Linked DNA regions of Homo sapiens: region 2 is linked to region 1. Evidence: fine-mapped expression QTL. Tissue or cell type: whole blood. Region 1 holds a variant in brackets; the other region holds the start of a gene. All regions are shown on one strand. Distances are from middle to middle.

The links. PIP is the estimated chance that this variant, and not a neighbour inherited with it, causes the effect.
Region 2: it holds the start of TOMM40L, and the variant in region 1 is fine-mapped to the expression of TOMM40L in whole blood (INTERVAL, PIP 0.90).

The regions. Positions count from the first base shown.
Region 1 is chr1:161,408,336-161,413,481 of GRCh38, forward strand. It overlaps the pseudogene COMMD6P1. Among named protein-coding and RNA genes, the nearest start is that of TRV-CAC1-1, 11 kb to the left of the region's middle. The variant T/G (reference allele first, on the strand shown) is at 2,810.
Region 2 is chr1:161,223,429-161,228,574 of GRCh38, forward strand. It overlaps TOMM40L (translocase of outer mitochondrial membrane 40 like), which reads left to right and starts at 2,632. Exons shown (of 10, transcript NM_032174.6): 1 at 2,632-2,708; 2 at 2,927-3,176; 3 at 3,460-3,527; 4 at 3,830-3,922; 5 at 4,208-4,309; 6 at 4,456-4,561; 7 at 4,758-4,880; 8 at 5,000-5,076. The coding sequence starts at 3,062. APOA2 (apolipoprotein A2) reads right to left here and starts at 200. Exons shown (of 4, transcript NM_001643.2): 1 at 167-200. MIR5187 (microRNA 5187) reads left to right here and starts at 3,758; the gene lies at 3,758-3,833. RefSeq lists enhancers at 2,038-2,147, 2,608-2,677, 4,192-4,371.

The sequences.
Region 1 (5,146 bases):
TCCTTGGTCACAGTTAACGTACACCTTGGTGGCCACTTTTATAGACTAGGTGGTATTCATGCCTGCAGCTTCTGCTTGCTGTTACCGTAGGCTTGCTTTACAAATGAAGTATTCACTATATACTGATTTTCAGCAGCCTCAGGGTTAAATGGGGTGTAAAGCCAGAATGCTGTATAGAGTCTCTTATAAAACTGACTTAGGCTCTTGCCAGCTCCTTAAAGCATTCCTGAAATCTTTTTTATATTACTTGCTTTTTTCTACCAACTCTTAACCTCTGCAGAAGTGCTTCTCAGTACCTCTGCAAACACTGAAGCTGAGTTGCATTCTCTGGGCCTTTTTTCCCCTTTTTCCTGGAGTTTAACAGGCCCTTTTCTTTATATAATTTTTCATGCACTTGGAGGGTTAAACAGGCATACTGAGAGTCAGTGTAAATGTTTACAGTCTTACCTTCACTGAGTTCTAAGACCCGAATTAAAGCAATGAGCTCAGCTTAACAACAGTGTCCAGGGTTACCACTGCATATTCTGCATATCTCTCTCCTTGTGGGTTGATGAAGCTGTATAGCTCCCAGTCTACTGATGCCCAAGGCTGGTCCCGGAGGTCAGGTCTGCTAGAGTAAACTTGAGTCCAACACCTCTGCACTGTTATGCTCGACAGGGCTCTAGCTGCTGGGAGCAAGGTGGCAGGTTCAGGGTGTTTCCAGTTTAGTAGATCAATGGTTGAAAAGGGCTGATAGATGAAAGTCTGTTGCCCCCCAAGATGTGGGCCTGGTCATTATAATAGACAGGTCCTGGTGTCTTCCTGAGAGGCATTTGCATAGCTCCAGCAAGACCAGATCTGAGACGGCCCACTTGACTATCTTGACCTTCTTCCTTGGCCTCTCGAGGCTCCAATCCTCCCCTTCGAGGTGAGACCTGGGGCCTGTTAGCTCCTGAATCTCATTTCTGAGGGGGCTGTTGGCTTCAGTAAAGGTGGGTAGGCTGGGATATGTGGAGAAATAATTTCTATTATCTTTGGTGGCTCCTGCAAAACTGGCTTCTTTTGCTGTTTCTGGGACTCCCTTTTTAACTCTGACTGCTGGCGAAGCTGCTCTTACTTTTACTTTTGGCTTTTTTGCAATAAGCTGTTAAACAGGGCTAAATTTATGCTGGTTTTGTCTATATTATATTTAACCATGAGTCAATATAAAGGAATTTAATCTAGGTACACTGGCTGTCCTCTGACCCCTGTCACCACCTTAAATACATGGCCAATTGTTCCCTGTCTATAGTTCCTTCGGTGGGCCATCCAACACCAAAAGAGGGCAATTCTAATTCACACAGAGTTCCTAACCTCTAGGGGGTTAACTTAACTCTGTAATCTCCTGTGAAACCTTTCTTAAGGTTCTGTAACATACATTTTAATAGAGTAAGTTTTGATGATTTGATGACTATCCTTTTATTTTTCTTTTTGAAAATTTTTTACACAGTTCCTAGCGGAGTGGGCTTACTTTGTGTCTGACCTATTTTTCTCTTGAGACAAAACAACATTCACACTACAAGAAGGAAAGGGTAAAAGGTCACTCACTTGTCTAATTCACACTAAATCAAAATCGAAACGAAAACCAAAGTGTTGTTAAAGGCACACCTGTTCATCAAGCAATTTAAGCCAAGTCAAAATCAGAACCAAAACCAAAGTGCCAATAAAGGCATGCCTGTTTATCAAGCAATTCAAGTCAAATCAAAATCAAAACTAAAACCAAAGAGTCAAGCAATTCAAGTCAAGTCAAAAACAAAAACCAAAGTGCTGGTACAGGCACGCCATGGGTGATCAGGCCATGCTTCCACTCAAATGGAGTGGGCAAGATCCAAAGACCAGTCTTACCAAGTTTTAGATGTCTGGACTTAAAGTGCCAGTTCCTTCCCGGTGTTCAGCTACTGCATTGATCCTCTGCGGGGGCCTGCTGTGCACTGCTCTGACAAGGCATTCCACCAGGACAAATGCCTACCTGGGAGCGCTCTCAGGATCTGCATGGCTCAAGCTGGCCAGAGTCCCCCGCAGGGATGCTCTACAGGGCAGACCTAAGCTGCCTAAGGGGCTGCCTTGGCCTTCCATTAATCCCCTCACTTCCTGGTCAGGGAACCAAGAAATGCAGCAGGACGAGCCACAGACAAAACTCCTCAGACACCGGATTAAAGAAGGAAGTGGTTTATTCTGCCGGGAGCATCAGCCGACTTGCGCCTTAAGAGCTGAGCTCCCCGAAAAAGAAATTATTGGCCTTTTTAAAGGCTTACAACTTTAAGGGGTCCACATGAAAGGGTCGTGATAAATTGAGCAAGCGTGGGAAACGTGACTGGGGGCTACATGCATCAGCTAACAGAACAAAAAGTTTTACAGTGCTTTTTTCATACAGTGTCTGGAATTTATAGATAACACAAGTAGTTTAGGTCAGGGGTTGATGTTATTATTATAACTTTTTTTAACTCCTAGGGCCAGGTGGTGGTGTCAAGATTGTCTGGCTATTTATCTCACTTTTGTTTTTTTTCCAACTTTTGGCTTTCTCTCTTTCCTCCTGTCTTGTGAACTAGGCAAGGTGGGGGGAGGAGGGCAGCAGGAGTAGTAGTGGTCTCCTTCCTTAGCACGTTCTCAGCTCCTGGGTTCAAGGCACCTGGCACAAAATGCAGTTTCTTATGTCTACTTCTTTCTACATAGACACAGTAACAGTCTGATCTCTCTTTCTTTCCCCCACAAGCTCAAGTGATCCACCCACCCTCTCAAAGTGCTGGGATTGCAGCTGTGAGCTAATGAGCCTGGCCGCTATTATCTTTTT[T/G]TTGTCTGAATTTTTAAAATTATTTTTAAAAATGGAAAAACAGCTGGATGTGGTGGCGCACATCTGTAATCCAGCACTTTGGGAGGCCGAGCTGGGCGGATCACCTGAGGTCAGGAGTTCGAGACCAGCCTGGCCAACATGGTGAAACCCCATCTCTACTAAAAATACAAAAATTAGCGGGGTGTGGTGGTGGGCACCTGTAATCTCAGCTACTCAGGAGGCTGAAGCAGGAGAGTCCCTTGAACCTGGGAGGCAGAGGTTGCAGTGAGCCGAGATCATGCCACTGCACTCCAGCCTGGGCAACAAAGAGTGAAACTCCATCTCAAAAAAAAGAAAAAAAACAAAAGTGCAATTTTTCATTCAATAAATACTTCATTCTTATGCGGTTTTGTTGCAGAAAGTGAAGTCCATGACTTTAGAATGATAGTAATTTATCAACCAAATAATCCATTTCACATAGTTTCAATAACTGCAGCAATCTCCTTGAATTGTCTGCATAAATTCTGAAACTGTGGAATTGTCATTTCAAAGGACTTGTTCTTTACTTGGACTGAATGAGTGGCACTTTTAGCATCACTGCAACATAAGGATACTTAAGAGATCTGCAACTGTCACATCTCACAGCCAAACCCAGTTTCCATTGAAAATCTACAAGCTCAGCCAGGCGTGGTGGCTCATGTCTGTAATCCCAGCATTTTTGGAGGCCGAGGCGAGTGGATCACAAGGTCAGGAGATGGAGACCATCCTGGCTAACACGGCGAAACCCCCTCTCTACTAAAAACACAAAAAAATTAGCCAGGTATGGTGGCGGGTGCCTGTAGTCCCAGCTACTCAGGAGGCTGAAGCAGGAGAATGGCATGAACCTGGGAGGCAGAGCTTGCAGTGAGCCAAGATCACGCCACTGCACTCCAACCTGGGCGATAGAGCGAGACTGTCAAAAAAAAAAAAAGAAAAAAATCTACAAGCTCTGACCAGGCGCGGTGGCTCACGCCTGTAATCACAGCACTTTGGGAGGCTGAGGTGGGTGGATCACCTGAGATCAGGAGTTTACACCAACCTGACCAACATGGTGAAACCCCGTCTCTACTAAAAATACAAAATTAGCCAGGCATGGTGGCGCATATGTGTAGTCCCAGCTACTCGGGAAGCTGAGGCAGGAGAATCGCTTGAACCCAGGAGGCAGAGGTTGCAGTGAGCCGAGATTGCGCCGCTGCACTCCAGTCTGGGCGACAGAGTGAGACTCCGTCTCAAAAAAAACCAAAAAAACTGCATTTTGTTCTGTACTAAGAAAAACTCTTCTGCCTGCCTTGAGATGCTGTTAATCTGTAACCCTAGCCCCAACCCTGTGCCCCAGAGACATGTGCTGTGTTGACTCCAGGTTTTTTTTTTTTTTGAGACAGAGTCTCACTCTGTCTCCCAGGCTGGAGTGCAGTGGCGCCATCTCCGCTCACTGCAAGCTCCGCCTCTGGGGTTCACCACATTCTCCTGCCTCAGCCTCCCGAGTAGCTGGGACTACAGGCACCCGCCACAACACCCGGCTAATTTTTTGTATTTTTAGTAGAGACAGGGTTTCACCGTGTTAGCCAGGATGGTCTCCATCTCCTGACCTCGTGATCCGCCCACCTTGGCCTCCCAAAGTGCTGGGATTACAGGCGTGAGCCACAGCGCCTGGCCATTGACTCAAGGTTTAATGGATTTAGGGCTGTGCAGGATGTGCTTTGTTAAAAAAAGTGTTTGAACGCAGTATGCTTGGTAAAAGTCATTGCCATTCTCTACTCGCGAGTACCCAGGGACACATATACTGCGGAAGGCTGCAGGGACCTCTGCCCAGGAAAGCCAGATATTGTCCAAGGTTTCTCCCCATCTGATAGCCTGAGATATGGCCTCATGGGAAGGGAAAGACCTGACTGTCCCCCAGCCCCACACCCTTAAAGGGTCTGTGATGAGGAGGATTACTGAAAGAGGAAGGCCTCTTTGCAGTTGAGATAAGAGGAAGGCATCTGTCTCCTGCTCATCCTTGGGAATGGAATGTCTCGGTGTAAGACCCGACTGTACGTTCTATTTACTGAGATAGGAGAAAACCGCCTTGGGGCTGGAGGTGAGACATGCTGGTGGCAATACTGCTCTTTAATGCACCGAGATGTTTGTGTACATGCACATCAAGGCACAGCACCTTTCCTCAAACTTATTTATGACACAGAGACCTTTGCTCATATGTTTTCCTGCTGACCCTCTCCCCACTATTACCGTATTGTCCTGCCACATCCCCCTCTCCGAGATGGTAGAGATAGTGATCAATAAATACTGAGGGAACTCAGAGACCAGTGCCAGTGCGGG
Region 2 (5,146 bases), 180 kb before region 1:
GGAAGAGGGTGGTGGGGGTTTGGGGGACACTGAAGCCAAATGGGCTTCAGCTCCTCCCCAGGGATCTCCCTACCTGCTGCCCATTCCAACCTGGCTCTCTCCCTCTCCACAACTGAAGCCCAGGCCTCTTTGGATGCTGCTCACACATCTTGCCTCCTTATCTTACCTAGCCAGCGTCTCTGTCCTTGGTGTCTGTGCCTGCCCTGGCTGGAGAGGAAGGGGCTATATACCTGTCTGTTTACCCACCCCCTGTCAGGTGACAGGGACTATGGATGGGCCCAGTGGGGCAGGGATTATGTGAGGATAAACAAGTTGGAGAAATGGGGGAGGAGAGGACAAGCACATGGAAGACTCATGGTGATGGGGTGAGAGGCAGGGGGTACAGCTCTTAGTGGAGGCTAAGGGGGTACACTTCAGGTATATTTGAGGTTCATTCTTTTGAGATCTGAGGTCCTTGGACTTGAGTGCAACAGGAAGCAGGATTCCAAGTTATTTCTCTGGAAAGCTCTGACATATCAACCCATGGAATACCATCAACCCATCATACCATGGAAAGCTCATGGTGTCTTTATTCCATTATGGGTAGATCTCATCTCTCAACCTTATCCCACTTTACTGCAACTTGGCAGAGAGATATTGGGGAGCAGAAGAAAGGAGAAAGGAATTGAAATCAGGGACAGGGTTGAGGGCTATGGGGGTTAGGGGAATGAGGGTCGGGTAAGAGGGCAAGTGTAAATGATCTTGTCCGTTTTTGAGTTAATGTGTAATGAGACGGGGAGAAAACAGGAGAGCCCAGAATGACCTGGATGCTGATCACTGAACATACCCTACCCCCAGTAAAACAAATTCAGAAAACAGCTTCCGCCCGTCCCCTCCCAATGGAGGGCTCTGGCAGGAAAAGAGGTGAATAAGAGGCTTCTACCAGGGTAAAGGTTGAAGGCACCTGGTCATTTGATCACCTTATCAGTTCTAGGCAGTGATTAGCCAATATTGAGTCAGCAGGGGCAATAGCCCTGGCCCTTGTCTCACTCCTGTTGGGGGTGGGGGAGGGGGAGAGGTACATTCCCAGGTTCAAAGCATTTGGGTGAAATCAGTTAAATAGATATCAGAAGCTTTTGTATCTTTCACCCTTTTGCCCCCCAAGCATACTCGCTGAGTATGTGGAACATTCCTGAGGGTGACAGTGGAGGCGCAAAGCTGATGAGGGAGGTAGTGACCAGAGACCAAGAAATCTTTGTTTTTTAACTTTTGTTTTAAATTCAGAAGTATATGTGCAGGTTTTTTTGTTTGTTTTCCTGAGACGGAGTTTTGCTCTTGTTGCTCAGGCTGGAGCGTAATGGCATGATCTCGGCTCACTGCAACCTCCACCTCCCGGGTTCAAGGATTCTCCTGCCTCAGCATCCCAAGTAGCTGGGATTACAGACATGCGCCACCACGCCCGGGTAATTTTGTACTTTTAGTAGAGACGGGGTTTCCCCATGTTGGTCAGGCTGGTCTTGAACTCCCGACCTCAGGTGATCTGCCCGCCTCGGCCTCCCAAAGTGCTAGGATTACAGGCATCAGCCACCGCCCCTGGCCTATATATGCAAGTTTGTTACACACGTAAACTTGTGTCATGGGGATTTGTTGTACAGATTATTTCATCACCCAGGTATTAAGCCTAATATCCATTAGTTATTTTTCCTGATCTTCTCCCTCCTCCCACCCTTCACCCTCCAAGACCAAGAACTCTTACTCCATTTTCAATTATTCCCCTGTGGAGCGCTTAGTGCTTGAGGTCAGCCCTTTGGCTTGTCCCTGGTCCTGGGATGGAGTGCCTTTGGGGGCCAGGCTCCATATTCCTAGATTTTATTTGCCAACTCTGCCTTGGGACTCAGGGAAGGAAGGGTTAAATACAGAAAGCAGCTGTTTCAGCGAATAGTTCTGCTAGAACTTACTCCTCTGCGCCAAACTCTCACACCCGTTTCCATTCCACCAAGTGGTCAAGAGCGGGGACTTCGAGAGATGTAGACCTCCAGAAGAGAAGGGTGGGTCCCTGTTCTAGGGAGTGCTGCGCTTAATGAGTAGTACTCATTTGGAGGTGTGCTGTGGAGGGCTGTGAGGAGGATTTCCCATGGGTTCTTTGGAGAGAAGGGAGCGATAGAAATGAACCAGGGTTCCAAAGAAGTCTTCATAATCGTTCTTTCTGCCACCCTTCACACTATGCCAGTCTACAAGCTGTAGTTCCACTTTTCTCATGGATGAAACTACATGGGTGGAAGGAGCTTCAGTGGCCCAAGCTACAAGATGCTCCCTCTAGTGTCTTGTACGCTCACAAGTTTTTTTCCGACCTTGGAGAGGCCTAGTGATCTAAAGCCTTCCACTTAAGTCTAAGGGGCCACCAATCAAGTCCTGCCCGCCTCTGCAGCTCCAGGGTTGAAGCTCTTGGGCCGTCAGACCTGCCACTCATTTTCTTCCTCCCTTCCCATTGGCCCATGGTAAATAGCGAGGCTTTTTTTTTTTTTTTTTTTTTTCATTGATTGGGCGGGGCCCAATCAGGGTTGGGTTGGGTCTTTGACAGCTTTCTTTGCCAGATTCAAAGATGGCGCTTACGGCCACGCTAAGAATGCAGCGTGAAGCTGCAGTTCTGCCATCACTCAAGATGGCTGCCCCCATCAAGATGACCGGGGTGTGCCGGGGGGAAAGGGGCAGCATGATGGTCTGAGATGGTAAGGGATACTGCACCATTGCGGGCCTGGTCTTGGGGCCTGGGAATGAAGAATAGAGAGGCTAGGGAGCTAGGTGAAGTCTGTGGTGGGGGCTAGGATCAGAGAAAGGGAGAGAGGACAAGGGTGACAAGTGGGGGTGAGAGATCAAAGATGGGGCGGGAGTGTGCCTAGGGTTGTCTCTCCATGAGTGCTCTCCTTCCCTACTCTTCCTGTTCCAGGTGTAGCGTCGGACCATGTGGAAGTTTCTGAGGCTGGGGAGCCGGATAATGGGGGGTGGGGCCCGTTGGGGGGTAAAGGGGCAATAGCGTCCTTTCACAGGCTAACCTCGGCTCTTCCCAGTCCTCTGGACTAAAATGGGGAACACATTGGGCCTGGCACCAATGGGGACTTTGCCCCGCCGGAGCCCCCGCCGAGAGGAACCCCTGCCCAACCCTGGGAGCTTCGATGAGCTGCACCGTCTATGCAAAGGTGAGAACTTGGCACTTGGGTGTCTCAGGATGAAGGGGCAGAGGAGTGGAGGGTCTTGAATGCCGGATGTCCGGCGATGGGAGCAGGAAAGGGGAGATCATAGCTGGGTCATGCAGCCTCAGGGAGGATCAGGTGCCCAAATGAAGTGGAGCATTTCATTGCAGGACTTGAAAGGAGGTTAATTCCTCCAAAGTGTTCCCTATGGGATTGAAAGGGGAGACTATCTTTTGGGGTAGGGGTTCTTTGTCTGTGCTTATTCCTTCCCTTCCCCTACCCCCTTCAGATGTATTCCCAGCACAGATGGAGGGAGTGAAGCTCGTTGTCAACAAGGTTCTGAGCAGCCATTTCCAGGTGCTCCCACTTCTCTGGCCCCTCCTTACTATTCCCCCTTTCCTGTCCCTGGATCATCTTCTCCTTTCCTTTGTACTCCAGCCCTAGCCAGTCTATGTGGGACAAATGAGGGAGGATGTGGGGTTCTCTTTACCTCCGTGCCTGTGGGACTTGTTGCTTTTAATCCGATGACCTTCTCTGTATATGTTGGAATATTTAGGATTCTTGAGAGGCCCTCTGGATGGGGAAAAGACTAAGGGTGGGATGAGGGATTGAAGTGGAGCAGGAATGCGCTTTTCTCCACTGAATCCTCTTTTCCTCAGGTGGCGCACACTATACACATGAGTGCCCTGGGCTTGCCGGGATATCACCTCCATGCGGCCTATGCAGGGGATTGGCAGCTCAGTCCCACTGAGGTGAGGGCTCCACACACCTGGGTCATCTCCCTAAAAACCAATCTGGGACCCAGGTCTGGAGGAAGAGGAATTGTGTGTGTTATGGGGAGGAATGGGCCGTAACCTGATTCTCTGTGTCTTTTCTGAATGAGAGAGGGTAGAGAAACATTTTCTGTGAAGAGCCCAGAGTGTGTCTTTGTGACTCCACCAGGGGGCGCTGTGCACTCTTAATGAAGTTCTATATTTGGGTTTAGGCTGAGTGGTGCCATCCGGCTCAGCCTTACTACTGTGTACACCCTTCCACAGGTGTTCCCCACTGTGGTAGGGGATATGGACAGCAGTGGCAGCCTGAACGCCCAGGTCTTGCTCCTCTTGGCAGAGCGGCTCCGAGCTAAGGCTGTCTTCCAGGTGACCACAGTTCCTGCCTCCATCCCCTGAGGCACTTCCTCTTTCTCCTCCACGGGTTTCCTGCTCTGAGGGCTTGGAAGGAGGAGCAGAGTCTATAATGATCATAAAGAGGGAGGGAGATTTTACTTCTTGCTCTTGCCACCCAGACGCAGCAGGCCAAGTTCCTGACATGGCAGTTTGATGGCGAGTATCGGGGAGATGACTACACAGCCACTCTGACCCTAGGAAATCCTGACCTGATTGGGGAGTCGGGTGAGGAACTGGGACAGGGTTCTTTTTATCTTGGCGGCCCATTTGCTAATGTTACTATGCCTCTTCATCTTCTGTACAGTTTGGAGTTTAGAAAAGGAACTTCTTGGGCAGGCTGGGGTGGCGGTTATTGGGAGTGAGGGAGCAGGTCTGGATATTGTCTCTATGACTGACTCCATGTCTCCCCATTCCCCCACAGTGATCATGGTTGCTCACTTCCTGCAGAGCCTCACTCATCGGCTGGTGCTGGGAGGAGAGCTAGTTTATCACCGGCGGCCAGGCGAAGAGGGGGCCATCTTGACACTGGCTGGGAAGTACTCGGGTATGGGGCGAAGTGAAGTAGTGGTGGTGGTGGGGGGCAATTCTGGACTTTTCTGGGGTTCCTGGCCTGTGTCATACTACAGTTAACACTCCTTCCCCTCTGTACTTTGGATTTTACAGCTGTACACTGGGTAGCTACATTGAATGTGGGATCAGGCGGGGCCCATGCAAGTTACTACCACAGGGCAAATGAACAGGTGAGACCTCTGATCTCATTCCCTCCTTGTCAGCAAGTCAGTCATGAACTTCTGTTCATCTGGACCTCTA